3 linked regions of the Homo sapiens genome follow. The protein of the gene in region 2 interacts with the protein of the main gene of each other region in a pairwise test. Each region holds a gene or a part of one and is shown on either strand. Other genes may lie near its edges.

Region 1 (7,038 bases), on a different chromosome or scaffold from region 2:
ACTTCTATTCATCTTCTGTATCTCATCTTAAATATTACATCTTCCCTAGTGGGATTGAGTGTTCCTTGTCTGTTTTCTTGACAAAGAGCGTTAACCTCACCACACAGCATTGAAATTGCCTGTTTTTGCATCTGTCTTCCTAATATATTTTAAGATTCATACAGGCAGAGATTGAATATCATTTGCTACTTCAAACATGCATCTGGCACTATGCCTGGCACATAGCAGGCACTCATAATACACCTTTGTTGAATGGATAAATGATTGAATAAATAAATGAAAGTAGAGTCATTGCCTTAAATATATACACCAGTTTACACCATATATACACCAGTTTACCTTTTAAAAGAATTTTAGCTTGTTTATTACCTATGAGAGATGTTTAAATAGAACAGAACTTAATAGGTTTATTCCAAGTATTACCATGCTTTTAATGATAAAGATGTCACAGTCCTTCAAAATGATAAGCCCCTGATAGAAGCTTCAAAATTGTATCCTAAATTAGGGCCTCAGTGGCTAGCAAAATGGTGTTACCAGAAGAAATGGGTTACAAAAATCTTACCCATAATCTTTGAAAGTTTAAATTTAATAATTCATTTTCACAGGATTTTCTACTTTATTATACTATACCATTCCTCTTGATCTTAAATCCTAAAATAAAGGAGGTCAGGAGAATCGTTTCATAATGAAGGTGATTTGGCCATAATTCTTGAAATAGCTTTGAAAACTTACTAAAAATTGAACCCATGCGGAAAGCTTATTAGTTGGAATTCAGAATGACTAACTGGACAGAAGAGACTGGATAAAACTCATGATCCTTTGCTGACAAAGCAACCTACATTGAGGATATAGAAATACTTGTGTCTTGACTGCCATAAATTCCTGGGCAAGAATTGTAGCTGGAGAACACATTCCCTTATCCCAATCAAAAAAAAAATCTCTCCCTTATACTAAAAAATATTTTGTAATCACTGACATGGTAACATAGTATTAAGAAATAAGCATATAAGGAGAATATATATTTAAGAAAGTATAGTATTCGTATAGTTCAGTAAATGTATTTTACAGAACAGTGAGAAATTTACTTATTGACAAAGGCATGAATGAACAGAATGCCTTAATCCAACATTTTAAAAACCCAATGTTTATCCCAGGCAAATTAACACAGAAACAGAAAACAAAATACCGCATGTTCTTACAAGTGGGAACTAAGAATTGGGTATACATGGACATAAAGACAGGAACAATAGACACTACGCAAGGGACTAGTGGGGCAAGGGCTAAAAAACCACCTATTGAGTACTATGCTCAATACCTAGGTGACAGAATCATTCATATCCAAAACCTCAGCATCACACAATATACTCATGTAACAAATCAGCACATGTACTCACTGAATCTAAGAAAAAGTTGAAGTTTTTTAAAAATAAATAAGTAAAATCCAATGTTTTGTGCATACCTCACTGACTAGATTCTTCTACCCACAAAAGTAAACAATAATAGGCCTAAGGGAGAAATCAAATATTCTATCATAAATAAAAACACTTGAGCAGATTTCCAAAAACCCAGAAGTTCACACATTTTCTAGTATCAAGTCATTAGCATATGCTTTGTACTCTCCCAATAGATATGTAAAATAAAATCAATTAACAGATCATTTTATCTCTACGTCTTCCTCACTAAGTTGCTTCATAGCAAACTCCTAATCAGTAGTTAAACACAAAAAGTATTCTTCTATTTCTCATTCTGGAATTCATTCTATTTATGCCTCCTGGATTAATTAATATTTTACAATATCAAGAGTCTATAGCTTATCCAAGGTCAAAATTGTCCCTACGGGGAATTTCTTTTAAAATAAAAAAGATATGGGATACCCAGGCTGGAGTTCAGTGGCACAATCACAGCTCACTGCAGTCTCAAACTCCTGGGCTCAGGCAATCCTCCAGTCTCAGCCTCCCAAGTAACTGGGACTATAGGCACATGCCAACAAGCCCAGCTAATTTTTTTAATTGGGGAATTTTAAATTAAAAAAAAAAACTTTAGTAAATTGTCTATTTTACTTTGACTTACAGAAAATGCAAAAGTTTGAAAACTGTGTTTTCCCATCTTTCTCTAGGATGATTCAGTGCTTAATTCTTTTGAGTTTTATGGCTGTGAAGAGATTAAAAAAAAAACTTGAAGTTTTGGAAAACAGAAAAAACATGTGCAGCCATATGCAGTGGCTCATGCCTGTAATCCCAGCACTTTCAGAGGTGGAGGCAGATGAATCACCTGAGGTCAGGAGTTTGAGGTCAGCCTGCCCAACATGGTGAAATCCCCTCTCTTCCAAAAATGAAAAAATTAGCCAGGCACAGTGGCAGGCGCCTGTAATCCCAGCTACTCGGCAGGCTGAGCCAGGAGAATCGCCTGAACCCAGGAGGTGGAGGTTGCAGTGAACCGAGATTGCGCAACTGCACTCCAGCCTGGGCAACAGAGCAAAACTCCGTCTCAAAAAAAAAAAGACAAGCTCTCCATATATTACTGGTATGGCAAACATGAAAATTCAAATACAAATTTGGTAAAATGCTTGCAAAAGGAATAAAATAACCACACAAGGCCACTCAATGAAGTCAGGTACAGGCATAGCTCATTTTATTGCACTTTGCTTTACTGCACTTTGCAGACAACACGTTTTTCACAAATTAAGTTTGTGACAACCCTGTGTCAAACAAGTCTATCACTGGCAATTTTCCACAGGATATATTCACTTCATGTCTCTGCGTCACATTTTGGTAATTCTCACAATATTTCAAACTTTTTCATTAGTCTTTTATTTGTTACAGTGATCTGTAATCAGTGATCTTTGATGTTCATTGTAATTGTTTTGGGGCGCCACAAATCATACCCACATAAGACAGCAAACTTAATCTGTAAATGTTGTGTGTTATCTGACTCCTCTACCAACTGGTCATTGCCCCATCTCTCTCCCTCTCCTCAGGTCCCCCTATTCCTGGAGACACAACAATATTAAAGTTAGGCCAATTAATAACTCTACCATGGCCTCTCAGTGTTCAAGTGAAAGGAAACGTTACACATTTCTCACACTCAAAGCTAGAAAATGATTAAGCTTAGTGAGGAAGTTATGTTGAAAGCTGAGATAAGCCAAAAGCTAGGCAGCCCTCTTGCACCAAATAGCCAAGTTGTGAATGCAAAGGAAAAACTCTTGAAGGAAATTAAAAGGGCCACTTCAGTGAACACACGAATAATAAGAGAGACACGCTTACTGTTGATATAGGGAAAGTTTTAGTGATCTGAACAGAAGATCAAACCAGCTGTAATTCCCCTCAAACCAAAGTCTAATCCAGAGCAAGGCCCTAACTCTCTTCAATTCTATATAGGCTGAGAGAGGTGAGGAAGCCACAGAAGAAAGCTGGAAGCCAGCAAAGGTTGGTTCATGAGGTGAAAGGAAAGAAGTCATCTTTACAACATAAAAGTGCAAGGTGAAGCAGCAAGTGCTGATGAAGAAGCTACAGCAAGTTATCAAGAAGATCTAGCTGAGATAATTGATGAAAATGGCTAAACAACAGATTTTCAATTCAGACAAAATAGCCTTACATCAGAAGAAAATGCTAGAGAGAAATCAATGCCTCATTTCAAAGTTTCAAAGGACAGGCTGACGCTTCTTAGAGGCTAATGGGTGAATGTAGCTGGTGACTTTACGTTGAAGCCAATGCTCATTTACCCTTCCAAAAATCCTAGGGTCTTTAAGAATTATGCTAAATCTATTCTGTCCATGCTCTAAAAGTAGGTCAACAAAAGCCTGGGTGACAGCACATCCGTTTACAGCATGGTTTACTGAATATTTTAAGCTCACTGTTGAGAACTACTACTCAGAAAAAAAAAAAAAAGATTCCTTTCCAAATATTACTACTCATTGACAATGCACCTAGTCACCCAAGAGCTCCAATGAACATATACAAGGAGATTAAAGTTGTTTTCATGCCTGCTAATAGTACATCCATTCTGCAGGCCACAGATGAAGGAGTAACTTCAACTTTCAAGCCTTATTATTTAAGAAATAAATTTTGTAAGACTATATCTGCCACAGTGATTCCCTGATAGATCTGGCCAAAGTAAATTGAAAACCTCCTGGAAAGAACTCATCATTCTATATGCCATTAAGAACATTCTTGATTCACAGGAGGAGGTCAAAATATCAACATTAACGGGAGTTTGGAAGACATTCATTCCAACTTTCATGGATGACTTTGAGGGATTCAAGTCTTCAGTGGAAGAAGTAACTTCAGATGGAATGGAAATAGCAAGAGATCTAGAACTAGAAGTGAAGCCTGAAGATGTGACTGAATTGCTGCAATCTCATGATAAAACTGGAATGAATGAGGAGTTGCTTCTTATGGATGAGCAAAGAAAGTGGTTTCTTCAGATGAAATCTACTTCCAGTGAAGATGTTGTGAACATTGTTTGAAATGGCAACAAAGGGTTTAGAATATTACATACACTTAGTTGATAAAGCAGCAGCAGGGTTTGAGAAAACCAATTCCAATTTTGAAAGAAGTTGTACTGTGGGTAAAATGCTGTCAAACAGCATCTCATGCTACAGAGAAATCTCTCATAAAATAAAGAGTCAATTGATGTGGCAAACTTCATTGTTGTCCTATTTTAACAAATTGCCTTAGACATCCCAACCTTCAGCAATCATCACCCTGATCAGTTAGCAGCCATCAACAACGAAGCAAGATCTTCCACCAGCAAAAAGATTACTACTCGCTAAAGGCTCATATGATCATTAGCATTTTTTAGTTGTAAAGCATTTTTACTTAAAGTACGTACATTGTTTTTAGACATAATACGATCGCAAACCTAATGGACTATAGTATAGTATATACTGTACTGTATACAACAAATATTTTGGTTTCCCAGTGCATATATACCGTAGTATACAATATATTGTATATATGCATCAGAAAACCAGAATATTTGTGTAGCTTGCTTCATTGTGATAATAGGCCTTATTTCAGTGGTCTGGAACCTAACCCGCAATATCTCTGAGATATACCTGTACATATTCCCCCTCTTATTGATTCTGAAAAAAAAATGATTTTAAGAACTTAAGAAAAACTAGAGATGAAAACAGAGTATACCCGATAACAAAAAGCAAATGTAAATTAGTAAGATACTATAAAACAAGAAGTGGAGCCATAATGTGCAGGAAACAACAAAAGAAGAAAACTTTGAATAGGGAAAAAATAAGCAGGAGAGTCATAAGGTCCTCTTCCCCAGAGGAAAAAAAAAAAAAAGAAATGACACTTTTATGAAGTATACAGTCAACCAAAAGCAAAGAGATAATTTAAGAACTGTGAGTCCAGGAAACTGTAATCTCAGTTTCAAGGGTGCCTATGAGATATATGGCAATATCATGTCTTAAGATTCTAAGGCCAGGCGCACTGGCTCATGCCTGTAATCCCAGCACTTTGGGAGGCCAAGGTGGGTGGATAACGAGGTCAGGAGTTCGAGATCAGCCTGGCCAACATGGTGAAACCCTGTTTCTACTAAAAATACAAAAATTAGCCAGGTGTGGTGGCACGCACCTGTAATCCCAGCTACTCAGAAAGCTGAGTCAAGAGAATTGCACGAACCCCGGAGGCGGAGGTTCCAGTGAGCCGAGATCACACTACTGCACTCCCACCTGGGCTACAGAGCAAGACTCTGTCTCCCAAAAAAAAAAAAAAAGATTCCAATTATATAACATTCTTCAGCTTCCTTTGAAAGCTATAATGTCAAAACATATACATATAAAAAAGATAGGACTTAGCTTTCAGTACATGATAAAAATGTTTATATATATATTATATCACTGAGAACCACTGCAAAAAAATAATTCAAAGGAAATAAAGGGTCATATAAATAAATAATTTCAGACAAACTTCTACACCAGTTTAAAAGAAGCTCCGAAGACAATAGGACAATTTTTTTTTTTTTGAGACGAAGTCTCTCTCTGTCGCCAAGTTGGAGTGCAGCGGCACAGTCTTACCTCACTGCAACCTCCACCTCCTGGGTTCAAGCAATTCTCCTGCGTCAGCCTCCCAAGTAGCTGGGATTACAGGCACGCACCACTATGCCCAGCTAATTTTTGTATTTTTAGTAGAGATGGGGTTTCACCACGTTGGCCAGGCTGGTCTTGAACTCCTGACCTCATGATCCGCCCGCCTCGGCCTCCCAAAGTGCTGGGATTACAGGCGTGAGCCACCGCGCCTGGCAATAGGACAATTTTTTAAAACACTGAAATGAAATGAACATTTATCTCAAAGTAATAAAGGCATTGATTTCTTCCACATATTTAATGACAATGAGAACAAAAAGCCATTCAAAAAAGAAGCTGCATTGTACTAGAAAATTCTGTTAAAGCATATTTTTATCTTTAAAACAGCAACTTTCTGCTGTAAAACATGGCAAATGACGTACCTATCATTAACTTTTATTTCTTATGTTAACACAGTAGGAAATCATATCAGATCAATTCAAGAAGACTTGTTAAAACAGACCCTTATAACACACTATGGTCTTGCATCATATCAGAGAATACTAATACAACTTATCCTGAATTGGTCCTAAATTTTCACAAATTAAAATATGTCCAAGATTGTCCCAAGGGCTCACCTGGGAGCAAATAAAGTTACTACTATAGATAAGAAAATCTTGAATGAAAAGCAACTGCTGAGGAAAAAAAACCTTCTATGAGGAAACAGAAGAGTCTTCTGTTGATAAAACTGAGATCTGTAAAAATGCGAAGAGACTAGAGTGAGAGAAGTAGAAAGTAATGTCATAAAGCAAACGAGCAGTTAATATGGGGTTTGAGGCACAGTAGTTTCAGCTTATCCAAGGGCAGTCCAGAATGGCACCTAGAAATGGGCTTAGTGAGATGTCACACCCATTCCCAATTCCCACCATGGTTGCATGGTATCAGTAAAAGAATCTCCTCTCTCTTTGACAAAAATATACTAACTAAATACCAAATGAAAATCCATCTTATGAAAATTT
Region 2 (7,082 bases):
TTTGTCATCATTTGCTCCCTTCATCACCTCACCCCCAAAAAACTAAAAAACAACCAAATACGGGGCCCCTTGCTGAATTTCAGTCTCCCCACCTGTAAAATGGGGGTAATCCCTTTATCATTTGTCCTAGACTCCTGGAAGATTTCATTAGAAAGGGTTTGGGGGTAACTACAGACCCTTCCTAAATCAGACAAGCCCCAGAAGTTTCTCTATTCATTAGGAACCCAATAAGGTAAGGAATGGTCTATCCAGCTAGAGGCAAAATGCACTGGAAACTGGGGAGGATGAAGGAAAACAAGCTTAGCCAGCTCGAGCCCCAACATCAGCTGGAAGAGATGATGTTAGGTGTCAGGCAGCCGCTGAAAGCAGGTACTAACATGAGAAAGTCTGGGAGTCTGGCCTGTAGCAGCTCCAGCCCCTCACCAGCAGGAATCAAGACAAGACAAGCCCATGGCCTACCTCGGTGGTGGGTGTGGCTAGGAATCCCTATCCCCAGCGACATCTGTAGCGCCCTCTCTTTGGCAAGGAGTCCCAAGCTGAAAGATGTACAGCCTTAGGCTTTTTGAGTCTTCATTTCTTTTCCAAAAATCCCCTGTACTCAGCTCTGATGGGGGTGGGGAGAGTTCAGGAATAGAAGGCAACATGGAGGATTGCAAAGTTCCTCGTCTAAGATTAGCCTAGGAACTCACAAATTCGTTGTGTGACCTTGGGCAAGTCCCCTCCCTTCTTGGGGCTTCAGAGTCCCCGGTTTGTAATGAAGAGGTTGGACCAAGTCAATACTAAGGTTCCTCTCCTGGCCATCATTCTACAGCTACATACAAGCTCACTCGTTGGATGTGAGCCCCCTGGCACAAAACTCAGCGGGCCCTGCCTGCCAGATCAGTGGGGCAGTGGCGGGTGGGAGATGCGGGGGCTGTATGTGAGGCCGTTCATCCTATGTTCATGTTCCTTTTAGAAACACCTGCCACCCTAGCCCTCCCAGCTCCCTTTTTAGACCCTGATTCACTGCCAACTCACGAAGCCTCTCCCTCCCCTCCCTCCTCTCTTCTCCCCCCACCCCCCACTCTTTTAGGCATTGGCAGCTGGGTGCAGAAGTAGCCCCAGCATTCAGGGAATGCTGCGCAGTGGTAGAGGGCAGTGCCCCCAGGGTCAGAGAGAGCACACCAGGAAGTACCACTCTCTAACCTTGGCCCAGCCCAGTTCTTTGGGTCACTGAAAGACCTGGGCTGAGGTCTTTCTGTACCACTAACTAGCAGTGTGTGGTTGTGGAAAATGCAATTCATTTCTCAAGCCTCAACATCTTCATCTGTAAATCGGCATTATATTTGGTTGAACCATATGAAATTGCTGTTTTTGTAGGTTAAATAAAAACAGTTGAATATTGCAGTTGCATATGGCTTAACGTGATACCTGTCCTGCCTGCTTCCCAAGGCTGTTGGGGAAATAAGAAGAGTTCAGAGGGCAGCATTTTCAAAAGCCCTGAACTAATATGAGGGCATTATTTTATTATTATTACTTCAAAGAGCTTAGTACAGACCCACCCGGAGCCAGTGGACTGAACCAATAACCCAGAACTTGAAGGTTTGGGACTTGGAAGTCTGGGAGAGCGCCACCTGCTCTGATGACTAACAGGGCAGACGCTTCCACCTGGCCTCCTCATCTCCTAGCTCTAAAAGGCCCTTGGTGAAACATTATTGAGATGACACAAGTTCCCAGGCCCCCAAAAGGAGAAGCAGCACACGCAGGCACATACTCCAGCTCGCCCCAGATCCCCCCTCCCACCCACCAGGGGCCTTAGCATGCAGGAAGGACACGACCAGCAACATCCCAGAGGGCACCCCCTGAGGTAGGTGAAGGTAGAGACCAAGCTGGGGAGTGCCACAAAGCTCTTGCCTGAATCAAGGGTCAGGGGTCCCCAGAGAAGTGGGGAATGATCTGACCTCGGAAAAGTCTCATCTCCCTGTCCCATATCCCACCAGGAATGGGGGGACAGTGGGGGGGACAGAGCCCAGGTGTGGGTGATTCAGAGTGAACCGCGCTCAGATACACTCTCTCTCACACAGCCAACGCACGCGCGCGCACACGCACACACACACACACACAGTCACACAGGGCAGATACCGGGACCCACTCACAGAGACAGTCACGCCGGCACACACATCCATTCACACACTCACAGACACACACAGGCACACATGGGGACAACACACACTCATTCACTCACATGTCCACAGATGCATACACAGTACCACCCTCCACACTCACGCTGCATACACCCACTAACATGCACACACACTCTCGCCCACAGTGACACACGCACACACTCACGGCATACACTCACCGGCACACACAATCGCCCACAGACCCACACAGTGACACACTCGGCACAGACACACAGCGACACGCACTCACATTCACACACCTGCAGAGGAAACTTCTCTCCGGATCTCCCCAGCACCACGACTTCCCCCACAACCAGCTGGCTACTCCCTCCCAGACCCGAGCCTCCAGCCGGGCGAGGGCTGGGCCGGGGCTGGCCTGTCCCCGCGGCCCTGACCGGGAGCGTGGGTCCGCGGTCCGCGTGGTCCCCTGCCCGCCCCTCGGGTCGGGCCCGCGGGCAGCCAGGCCGGGGCAGGAGCGGGGGCAGCTGAGGAGGCCCAGCCCCTCCCCCCTCCCGGGGCCGGGAGCCGAGCGCCGGAGCCCGGGGCGTGGGCGGCGCCGGGGCCGCAGCCGGGCCGTGCCTGGGGGGCGCTGCAGAGGGAGCCGCGAGCGCGGCCCCGTCCCCACTCCTCCCCGCGGCTTACCTGGCCCGGCTCGGGCTCCGGCCGGGTTACATGGTGCCGGCGGCCCGGGCCGGGGGCGCTGCGGCGTTGGGCAGGCGGGCAGGGACCGGGGCCCGGCACTGCGGAGCCCCCAGCTGAGGGGCCGCGCCGGCTGCGGAGCCCCAAGCGAGCGCCGAGCGGCAGCGGGCGCGGGAGCGGGAGGCGGCCAAGCCACGGAGGCTGGATTTCCCGGGGACCGGGAAGGGGAGGCGGGGGGATCCCGCCCGCGCGCTCCGCCCCCGCCCCCGCCCCCGCGCAGGGCAGCCGAGCAGGGAGAGGGAGAGGGAGAGGAAGAGGGAGGGGGACCGAGCTCCCCGCCCCCGCGCGGACCCAGGAGGGCCGAGGTCGCCGCCCGCGGGCGGCCGCCGGGGTCCCGGAGGAGCGCCCACCTCGCTGAGCGACGGTGCTGGGGGCGCCCAGCGTAGGGGCAGGAATGAGATCCCCCTCCCCGGGGACCCAGGAACAGGCACCCGAAGTGTCACGGCCACGCACAGCCGACCTGGGTACAGGGACCCAAGCCCGGCGGCGGGCGGGCGGTCGGGGACCAGCTCAGCCTCACGGACCGGGTCTCGCCCCCCGCCGAGGGGCAGTCACGCCCTGAATGTCACACACAGCCCCCAGGCCCGTCCGCTTAGGAGACTCTCCTTCGGGCTTTCCCGGTCGGCCGCCTGACCTCAGCTCCTGGCTTGGGGTCAGGGAGCCCCCCTCTTCGGCCCCAGCCCCTGCCAGGATGGGGCGCTGTGCCCGGCCTCGGAGCCGCTGGCAGGCGTCCCCCACCCACAGTCCGCACAGCCGAGGCATCCCCAGTGTGGAGGGAGAGCCCCGCTGTACCTGCCGCCTGTGCTGGGCCCCCGCCCGTGCCCACTGTGCCCGCCCGCCTCTGGGCCCTGAGCCTGGGATTGTGCCATGGCGGGGTCGGGGTGGGGGGAAAGGGACTGTCCGAAGCACAGCTGGAGGCTGCGGAGCCCGGACACAGGCTGCGGGAGCCGAGAGGCGGAGAGCGGACTGCAGCAGTCCCCTGGCTTGAATCCGTCTTGGCGCCCAGAGCGATGCTGTAATGGGGGGGAGGGGGCCACGGTGGGGAAGCCGCAGGGGGAGGGGCTGAAGACGTGGGGGAAGGGGTGGCTCCGGATTCCGGCTTTCCAGGGTAGGTGTGAGGAAACACTGCCTCCGGCGCTGAAAGTTGGGGGTGGAGGTTCAGTGGGCATCCTTAAAGCCCTCTTCCCTCCTCTACCTTTTCCGGTCTTGAAAGCTTGGGATGGTGAGGTGTGGGCTTGGGAGGCTTGAGACTGCCCACCTCTCTAGGAACATACCTTGGAGTTGTTCTGATTCAACGGCCCCCACCCCGCACCCCAACAACTCCCTGCTCTCTGTTTCCTTGTGGGGCCACCGGCTCTCCTCCCTGTATAAAGGGGAAAGTGAGGCACGGAAAGGAGAAGCCAAAGGCCCAGAAGAGCTAGAACTGGGAGCCAAGACCTCTTTTCCCCAGGGAGATGATGTTTTAAGATGCCACATTACATTAAATAACATAAGGGGCTTGGAGAGCCCTCTTCCCAAGGGATACCTAGAAGTCTGGTAAGAGACTAGTAGATTGGTCACCTACCCTGCTGCTCACAAGAACGGTTCATTGTCTCTTCAATCATGAAGTGAGGTTGCAGACCATTTCCAGCCCAGGGTTCAGTCAAGAGCAGATGTCATGAAAATAAGAAAGTTGTTCCCAGGAACCCACTTTAGAACTGAAGGAAACATCTCACTTTCCGTGGAGCATAAGAACAGCCGTTGGGCCGAGCGCAGTGGCTCATGCTTATAATCCTAGCACTTTGGGAGGCCAAGGCGGGTGGATTACCTGAGGTCAGGAGTTCAACACCAGCCTGGCCAACATGGTAAAATCCCGTCTCTACTAAAATTACAAAAAATTAGCCGAGTGCAGTGGCACGTGCCTGTAATCCCAGCTACTCAGGAGGCTGAGGCAGGAGAATTGCTTGAACCCGGGAGGCACAGGTTGCAGTGAGCTGAGACTGTGCCACACTGCAGCCTGGGCAACAGAGCCAGATTCAGTCTTAAAGAAAAAAAAAAAAAAGGATGAGCTGACGGCCGGGCACAGTGGCTCACGCCTGTAATCCCAGCACTTTGGGAGGCTAAGGCAGACGGATCACCTGAGGTCGGGAGTTCGAGATCAGCCTGGCCAACATGGTGAAACCCTGTCTCTACCCGAAATACAAAAATTAGCCCGGTGTGGTGTTGGGCGCCTGTAATCCCAGCTACTCAGAGGCTGAGGCAGGCGAATCACTTGAATCCGGGAGGCAGAGGTTGCAGTGAGCAGAGATTGCACCATTGCACTCCTGCCTGGAACTCCGTCTCAAAAAAAAAAAAAAAAAAAAAAAGAACAGCCGTGATAGAGGATGTTAAAAAGCACCACCGTGTTTTCGCAGTTCTAAGACCTGTATTTTGTAAACTATTCTGAAACTGGAAAGCATCTTACAATAAACAGGGACATTTAATATGGCTCTTCTTACCTTTCTGTTAAAGCTATTAGAGTTGGTGCATTTTAGAATTGAGAACATAATGTTATTTTCATTTGTTCATTCAACAACCCTTTACTGATTATACCTGGCACCTTGCTAGCCTCTTGGGGGCATACAGGTTAATCAGACAGGCTTACCTTAGACAGTGTTCTCCCATAGCCATCCAGTGATTAATAACTGATTAATAAGGGAGATGGAGATGTAAACCAATAATTACTATCAGGGCCAGCTTCATGGGAGTGTGACCTGTGCAGTCGTACAGAGCCCCACATGTAGAAAGGCATCACTCTTGGTAGAATATTCTGCTGTCACTGTCTTAAAATTGTTAATAATTTTTGGACAAGGGGCTCACCCTGGGCCTAGCTCTGCCTAGGTGAAGAGGACAGTCAAAGAAGCACAAAAAGCTGGGCGCGGTGGCTCACGCCTGTAATCCCAGCACTTTGGGAGGCCAAGGCAGGCAGATCATGAGGTCAGGAGATCGAGACCATCCTGGCAAACACAGTGAAACCTCGTCTCTACTAAAAGTACAAAAACAAAATTAGCTGGGCATGGTGGCGGGCATCTGTAGTCCCAGCTACTCGGGAGGCTGAGGCAGGAGAATGGCATGAACCCAGGAGGTGGAGCTTGCAGTGAGCAGAGATCACGCCACTGCACTCCAGCCTGGACGACAGAGCAAGACTCCATCTCAAAAAAAAAAAAAAGAAGCACAAAAGAAGCATTTGAATGGAGTCTCAAAGATTGGGAGAGAGACTTTCAGGTAGAGAGTCACATGTGCAAAGACAGAGACTCAGTGTCAATCAGTATGACAGTTGCCTTAGTTGATCTTCCCACTGAAAGCATGATAAATAGCAAAAAAAAAAAAAAAAGATAAAATATTTTTATTAAAACACAATAAAGAAGAGAATATATATGTATAACTATGTACATTTTTAATATTCTTAAATGTATCAATGTGCTGGCAAGAAAATAAGAATCACTCCAGCCAAAATCTAGGTAAAGGCAGAACCAGAGAAGTAAGCAGAGCACTGAAGCCAACTTTAGCCTTGGGGGCTGTGAAAGATGTGTTGCAAAAAGGGCACCAATTCTCTACCTCCACCCGAATCCATCTCCTTTGCCCTGTGACTTTGCAACTCCCTGCATCAACAGGTGGACTCTTTGGAACAAGGATCTCTGAGGAGAAAAAAAAAAAAAAAGAGGCAGACCCTACTTTCCCACCCCTTAAATCTGAGTGGACTTGTAACTTGCTTTCGCCAATGGAATCTGGAAGAAGTCATGTAGTGCCAGTTCTGAGCTTAGGCCTTCAGAGACATGAATACTTCTACTATTTCTCTTGGTCTCCTGCCTTCACTATAAGAACAAGCCTCAAGCCTGAGACAGCTGGAGGATGAGTGACAAGGTGGAAGAGAGCTATACCATCCCAACTGTCCCAGCCAAGATCATCATGGACCCGCCTATAGCCAGCAGATCTCCAAACATGTGAGAGAGCCCAGGCAAGAGCAGCAGAGATATCTACCTGTCCACAGCTGACTGCAGACACATTAGTGAGACCAGCTGAATGAGAAGAACTGTCGAGCCAATTTGAAGACTCTTGAGCAATAATGAATGCTTATTAATTTAAGCTACTGAGCTTTGGTATGGTATGGTATTATGCCGCAATATTATGGCATTTAATAACTAATACAGGGTCATTTGCTGACAGATGAAATTTAACTTCAGTTTTCATGATCTCTCAGGG
Region 3 (7,038 bases), on a different chromosome or scaffold from region 2:
CCTGAGGTCAGTAGCCCTAGAACTAACCTAAATATGGCCTGAAGTGAATGACCATTTAGCAAACAAAGTAAATTTTCCAGCAATGTAGTAATGAAAATATATGCTTAGCTTTCAAAAGAAATGTATCTTCTTATTTTTATGGAGAAAAAATTTGATAAAATTATAAGTATTTTCACAAGGATGATCTCATTTTCACAGTAGCTCTGCAAAAGAGGAAATGTAAGAGATATTTTTATTCCCATTTTATAAAAGAAGAAATTGAGAGATGGGGAGATCAAGTGACTCTTCCAATTCTCCGTCTTAAGTAGGCCAACAGGTTAGAGCCAGAGCCAGTCTTCCTGATGATGTCCCTTTCTGTGCTCTTAAACCCAATCTGTCTGAGGACTTGGCATGGCACCGTCAGATGACATATACCAGGTGTCTTATATTTTTATTTCACGACATGTAAATGACATTCATACAGCACAGTCTATTAATATTCTATCCAATAAGTTCTATCTGAACAAGCAAATGTTTGCTGACATCCCCGTCTATAAGAGTTTTGGGCATGACTTATTATCTAGACATCTATATATTTTTTTAAAGTGGGCAGTTGAGTACCATCAAGTTGTTATATAGTTTTATCCTGTGATAACTGACCACTCATCTTTTACATTCAGAAATCTTCTACGTATCTTCATAAAGATATTGTTGCAGTGTTCTTTATCCTTGCCTGATGACTTGAAAAATTGCTGTTAGTGGAAAATATCCATAAATTGTAAAAGGCAGTCTTACTAAGAAACACAAATAGTTCTCACTCTGTTTCTAAATAGCAAGATCACATTAAAACTCAAAAATAGGTAACATTAATCACTACAATTCAAACTACTACTCTCTAGACCTGGCAGGGAAACTTGAGAGCTTTCAACATAACCCTTAGTTCTTTCCCGTGAAATTCTGGCAGAGCAGAGGGAAGGAGAGAGCGTGCTTGGGGACTGGGGAGTCTGTTAACAGTGATTAAAGTTAGGGAGAGCCTTAGAGGAAGTGGCATTTGTTACCTCTCTGACTTTTACTTGGCCATTCAGAAACCCATTGTTTCCACAATCATACTCAAGTCATCCTTGACTGTAACTGTGGTGGGAATATCTGGGTAGAACTGTCCTGATTTTATAGAAGAATATAACAAAGGACAAAGAGTAATTACTGAAATAGCAATCATCTTTTGCATAACAATTTACAGCTTAGAAACCCTTTCACCTGTATGATCTCATTCGTTATTTCCCATGGAACAATAAGTTGCTATTACTATTGTTCATCATTACTTCTAAAAAATCTGAGTCACAGAGGATTGAAGCCAGTTTGGGAAAGTTATACAGCTAATAAGTGATGAAACTAGAACTCAGACCAAAGTCTTTTGACCTCATATCCCATGTGATCTCTACTATACCTTGCAGCCTCCTGAACCTAAGAAGAATGTTGGAGCAAGAATGAAAGTAGACATAAAAAATAGTCAATGAGTTAAAAAAAACTCACTGAATAGGAAATTGAGGAAATGAGGCATACCCAAGAGAAAATCCAAAAGGCCAATAAACATGAAAAGATGCTCACCTTCACTGGCAGTCTGGGAAATGCAAATCAAAACTATGATCACATCCATTAGATTGGTAAAAATTAAGTCTGAGAATACGAAGTACTGTGTCAGATGTAAAGCAATGAAAATTTCAACACACTACCGATCAGAGTGTAAATCAATGTGACCTCTTTTGTCAGCCATTTGCCACTATCTAACAAAGTTGAAGATGCACATGGTCTGTGCCAGCATGGGGTTCATAGCAGAGTTATTTTCAATAGCCACAGATTTGTCATAACTCCGGTGTCCATTAACAAAAGAATGGATGAATGTTATTAAGTAGTAATATAGCCATCACTAAATACTGTATTACAATGAAAACTAATCAACTAGAGGCACAAGTATCAAAATAGATAAATATCACAAACATATTTTAAGAAAAGTTACAGAATATTAAAATATATACCATTTACAAAAGGCTTAAAATATGTAAAATACTTTCCAGGGATTATTATTATTTAGAGATTAGATACTATTTAGAGATATTGTTTTTACGGACACCTAGATATGATATAAATTATAAAGGTATATGTAAATAACAAACCTCAAATAGGGCAATGGTTACCTTGGAAAGGGCTGTAAAGGAGTGCAAGTTGGGGGAGAGGTGCTAGCCAAGGGGGATTCAACTAATATGAGCAATGTTCCAATCATTAAGTTGGATGTTAGTATACAAGTATTTGTTGTTCTTTCAACCTTTTAAATGTAGAAAATATAACATTAAAACTAAAAGAAACAGGAGAGAAAAATAGTCTATCTGAATCAGACACTTCTCTGGGACACTGAGATGAATGGAATCAATTAAAAACGATTCCCAAAGCATCCCCAGCTGCCACAGTCTGAAGAGGAATTATAATAACAGTGAGGGAATGTCCACTCCAATTCAGTTCTGAGCCGTGGACCCACGTTCCAGCCACCACATCAGTACCCTCTCTGATAGACATTATGGAAAAGTGAAGTTCCATCTGACCAATCACATAGGTTGTGACATTTTCTAGAGGCAGACCTAACCTGGATCCCTGAAAATGTCTGCTTGGCCTCTCTGTCAATTTGGGAAGAGGGACTGTTAATTAAGACAATGCTGTTAATTGTTTTATTCATTTTATGTTATACACCTACAAAAGACCAGAAAAGTTGTCAACTCTAAAAGTTCAACTCTGTTTTTCATTTTTAACGTTTGCAAGCTTGCTGGGCAAGGATGTCTCAGAATGAAATCCCTAGCCATTTGTACCTCCCATTCCAGAATTATTCTGATAAACTGATGTCTGTTGAGTTGCTTATTTCAAGATCTGTGAAAACATGTCTCTTCATCCCTAATATACTCCTCAGCATAGTCAGGCACAATCTCAATTTGCAAGCTCAATTTTCAAGTATTATGGTTTGTGAAGATAAAAATACCAATCCATGATAAAATAGTTCTCCAAAAATAAAATTGTTATTCATACATAATTGAAATTTTTAAAAAAACATTTATCTCAAACAGCCATGATTTTCTGCATTTTAAGCAGGAAAAAATATTTCTCTGAATATATTTTATAATGGATAATTTGCATTCAGAGCATTTCTAATCATAAAGTTAGCCTCTAACCAGTAGACCTCTGAAAATCTGTGATAGTTCACTGGGGAGAAAGGACAAGTGCCTTTATTGAAACTGATCCACAGAAATATTAGTTTATCTAAGATCAGAGGATGAACTGTGGCAACTTTCTGTTTGAAACCAAGGGACCCAAATCTCCTCCATCCTATTTTAACAACAATCATATTAATAATAGTCCACATTTATTGAGCACTGTGTGTCATACACTATGCCAAGTACTTTTCCTACATTATGTCATTTCATTCTCACAACTTTACAAATGAGGAACTGTGGCTCAAAGCAGGGAACTTGGTCAATATCATGTATCTGTTAAATAGTAGAGCCAAGGTGTCAACCCAGCTCCCTAATCCCAAAACCTGCACCCTTGACCTTTGCTCGCATATACATGGAAGCTTTGTAATTACCTGCTATAGATGGAAAAAAATAAATGGGCAAATATTTTTCTGTTCCATAAAAAAGAAAAAAGGCAATTGACTTATTCAACTTATACAAAAAAAAATATGCTAGGGCTTTGTTTTTCGTCTAAAACTCATGACCACTACTTCTCAATAGTTCGAAAATTATATTAACTGAATTACACTGAAGATGGAATATAAGATGAAAAAGAAGCATAGAGAATGTGCTTCTTCAAGGTACACATTCCTCTAACCTTTTCTTTCAGAGCCTTTGTTTCTGAATATGAAGTTGTTTCTGAACTTCAAGAATAACCAAATAGCTTTTTTTCAGCACTTCATCATTGTATTTGCTGGCAGTCCTGTTGTAACCTTGAGTCACCCACAGTGATTTTAAGTATTATTCTAATTGATTTCTCACTGCTTACTAAGAAACAACACCTCTCACTAGTCTCGTAAATAATTCCATTTCTCTATGTCAATGTTAATTGAACTTACCTCATGTTGTCAATCTCTTTTTTTCTTACAGGTGATGTCATTGTCTATATTAATGAAGTTTGTGTCCTTGGACACACTCATGCAGATGTTGTCAAACTTTTCCAGTCTGTTCCTATTGGTCAGAGTGTCAACCTGGTGTTGTGTCGTGGCTACCCTTTGCCCTTTGATCCTGAAGACCCTGCTAACAGCATGGTGCCACCCCTTGCAATAATGGAGAGGCCACCTCCAGTGATGGTCAATGGAAGACACAACTATGAAACATATTTGGAGTACATTTCTCGGACCTCACAGTCAGTTCCAGATATAACAGATCGGCCGCCTCATTCTCTGCACTCCATGCCAACTGATGGTCAGCTAGACGGCACGTATCCACCGCCCGTCCATGATGACAATGTGTCTATGGCTTCATCTGGGGCCACCCAAGCTGAACTTATGACCTTAACCATTGTGAAAGGTGCCCAGGGCTTCGGCTTCACTATTGCCGACAGTCCTACAGGACAGCGGGTGAAACAAATACTTGACATTCAGGGATGCCCTGGCCTGTGTGAAGGCGACCTCATTGTTGAGATCAACCAGCAGAATGTACAGAACCTGAGCCATACAGAAGTAGTGGATATACTTAAGGACTGTCCCATTGGAAGTGAAACTTCTTTGATTATCCATCGAGGAGGTAAGACAAACACTGGCTCAGCAATAAAATATGTGGGTAAAATAGTAGGATCATTTAATAATATTGTTAAAATGCAGATTTCCTTGGAGTTGAATGAAATTATACTTTAAAAAATAAAGCTTAAAGAGTGAGAGAGAAAAACATGAATTAAAGGAAACTTTGTTTTTGAATTCAGAATATGTCTTTTTCTATTTTGTATTAAACACAATAATAATAGTTCTTTCAGTCTTACAGACATATTGATAGAAAGTTGGAGGGTAAAGATTAAATCCCCAACTATGAATGTATTTTGTTTCAAAAATTCATTCATGTATCGGTCATGGAGAACTCAAACTGGTTTCCCATTGATTTAATTAAGAAACCTGCTTTTACGATGGAAGCAACGCTTTTAATCGTGCTTAGGTTTCCAGGCTAGCAGGTGGAAGCCAGTTCAACCCCTACTAAGCCCAAGCACAGTCTTGACAATACTCAGAAGGACCATGAACTGTGAGAGCTGTGGGAGCTGTGCTGCTGTAGAAAAATCTTTTCACAGTTTGGAATGATGCTGTTCAGGACACTTCTGCTACTACAGGAACTGCACTAGCAACAATTACCCATAGTGCCTCCCATGATCTGGGAAGAAAGTTACAGAACAGGGTGAGGGCTGAAGTTCTGGCCTGAGTGTCCCGGGCAAAGTATGGAAATAGGAACAGTGCCAAGTGTGGTAGAAGCTCTGAGCCCTGAATGTTTCTTCCCCTCTACCTTTTCTGTGGGGAAGGGAATGGGGTAAAGCACAGGGCCCCTTCTCCACACCTCTGCTGCTTTGCTCTGGATGACCAGTGAACCTAGAGAGAGAAGGGAGGGAAGGGGCCATAGATAAAGAGGATACTATCTCGAAAAAAGAGTGTAAAGGAAAAGGATCAGGCTAAGCCCTGGTTTTCCCATTTGCCAATTTGTGGACTTAGGACACTGAAAGTCAATGAGCCTCAGCCATGTCATCTGTTACAATGGGATAATACTACTACCTAACCCAGTGGTAGTGTTGTAGCCCAACATCTGCTCACTAAATGTCTGGCGAGTGTAAACATCGAAGCTTCAGCATGGGTGGGTCAGAAGGAACAGGACAATGAGGAACTCATGCATGAAGGACACACGTGTGACAAACATGTGGTTGCCTATTCAAAGCACTCAAAACAGCCTGAAACTCTCAGTTTGAAATGCAAGTGAAGGCTGTCAAAGCTGAAAGAAAGAAGCACCTTTTATGATTTATTTGGCCCTGTCTGCAGGTGTTTTTCCTTCAAGGAAGTATCACATTGTTGATTCCTTGTTTGGAAACGGACAGCAAACACCAGGCATTTGTGAGCAGCACTCTACAAAGTCTTAGGTTCCCGGTACTAAAAGGGAAATTCATATGATAGCCAAACAATCTTAAATTTGACCTTCTCAAGGCATTGTTACAAAATAGCACTTGAATTCTCATAATTAAATGTTGGCAAGGTATTTTAATTTCTTGCATTGCTTAAGATTAAAATAAACATTGCTAATTAAATAGCCATATCTTCATAGTGTCCAAATGAAAATCAAATATTTGGACCAAGTTCTTGATATTAAATGGTATCACAAACTCACTGTGCAGTATCCACTGTATGATTCATAGAAACAAATTTGGATGCATTTTTTATATACAGCTTCTTCTAAAAGCATGACATAGCAGAAAAAAGGTACTTTGAAATCCCTAATTTACATTATGGTAATTTGTACTTTTCTGAAAATATTCGTTGTGTGCCTGCTATCAGCTTGGCTACCCCATTCTCACTTTTCCTTTGCCCCCCATTTACTCCACAAGTAATCAAAGTGGTCTTTGCATTTGGTTTGTGTTTGGGGATGAGGGAATTGGTTTTTGTTTTTTGCCTAGCATAGCAAAATGCAGAATGCTGTGATGCTTAAAGTACTTCTAGTCGAAAACCTCTTGAGTTTACCCTAATTCCCACAATTTATACTCATCTCTCTGAAATTAATAGGAACTAGCACCATGCTTATGTGGTGAAATTCACTTTATCTTATTATGGGCTACCAGAAGTGCCTATGACCTCTTTGAGATAAGCAGACTCAAGAGCTGAGTCGCAGGCCTGGGTCCTTATATCAGGACCATGGGTGGTCGGCTGTTTTTAATTATTTACTAGAGTTTTTAATTTATAAAGTAATAATGTACATGGTTTAACTTTTTTAAAGCAAATAATGTCAACAAGTATAAAATGAAAGTAATTGTCTGTCCTATCCCAGACTTTCAGTCCTT

What was found. The genes of interacting proteins can lie anywhere in the genome.
Region 1: the proteins of DLGAP3 (region 2) and DLG2 interact in binary tests that used the Homo sapiens proteins (3 or more experiments, as listed by UniProt).
Region 3: the proteins of DLGAP3 (region 2) and MAGI2 interact in binary tests that used the Homo sapiens proteins (3 or more experiments, as listed by UniProt).

What each region holds. Positions count from the first base shown.
Region 1 is NC_000011.10:85,617,345-85,624,382, forward strand, and holds part of DLG2 (disks large homolog 2), read right to left. Parts: intron 1-7,038. UniProt on the Homo sapiens protein: Required for perception of chronic pain through NMDA receptor signaling. Regulates surface expression of NMDA receptors in dorsal horn neurons of the spinal cord.
Region 2 is NC_000001.11:34,926,647-34,933,728, forward strand, and holds the start of DLGAP3 (disks large-associated protein 3), read right to left. Parts: upstream 3,005-7,082; 5' UTR 2,805-3,004; intron 1-2,804. UniProt on the Homo sapiens protein: May play a role in the molecular organization of synapses and neuronal cell signaling. Could be an adapter protein linking ion channel to the subsynaptic cytoskeleton. May induce enrichment of PSD-95/SAP90 at the plasma membrane.
Region 3 is NC_000007.14:78,253,668-78,260,705, reverse strand, and holds part of MAGI2 (membrane-associated guanylate kinase, WW and PDZ domain-containing protein 2), read left to right. Parts: intron 1-4,124; coding exon 4,125-4,763; intron 4,764-7,038. UniProt on the Homo sapiens protein: Seems to act as a scaffold molecule at synaptic junctions by assembling neurotransmitter receptors and cell adhesion proteins. Plays a role in nerve growth factor (NGF)-induced recruitment of RAPGEF2 to late endosomes and neurite outgrowth.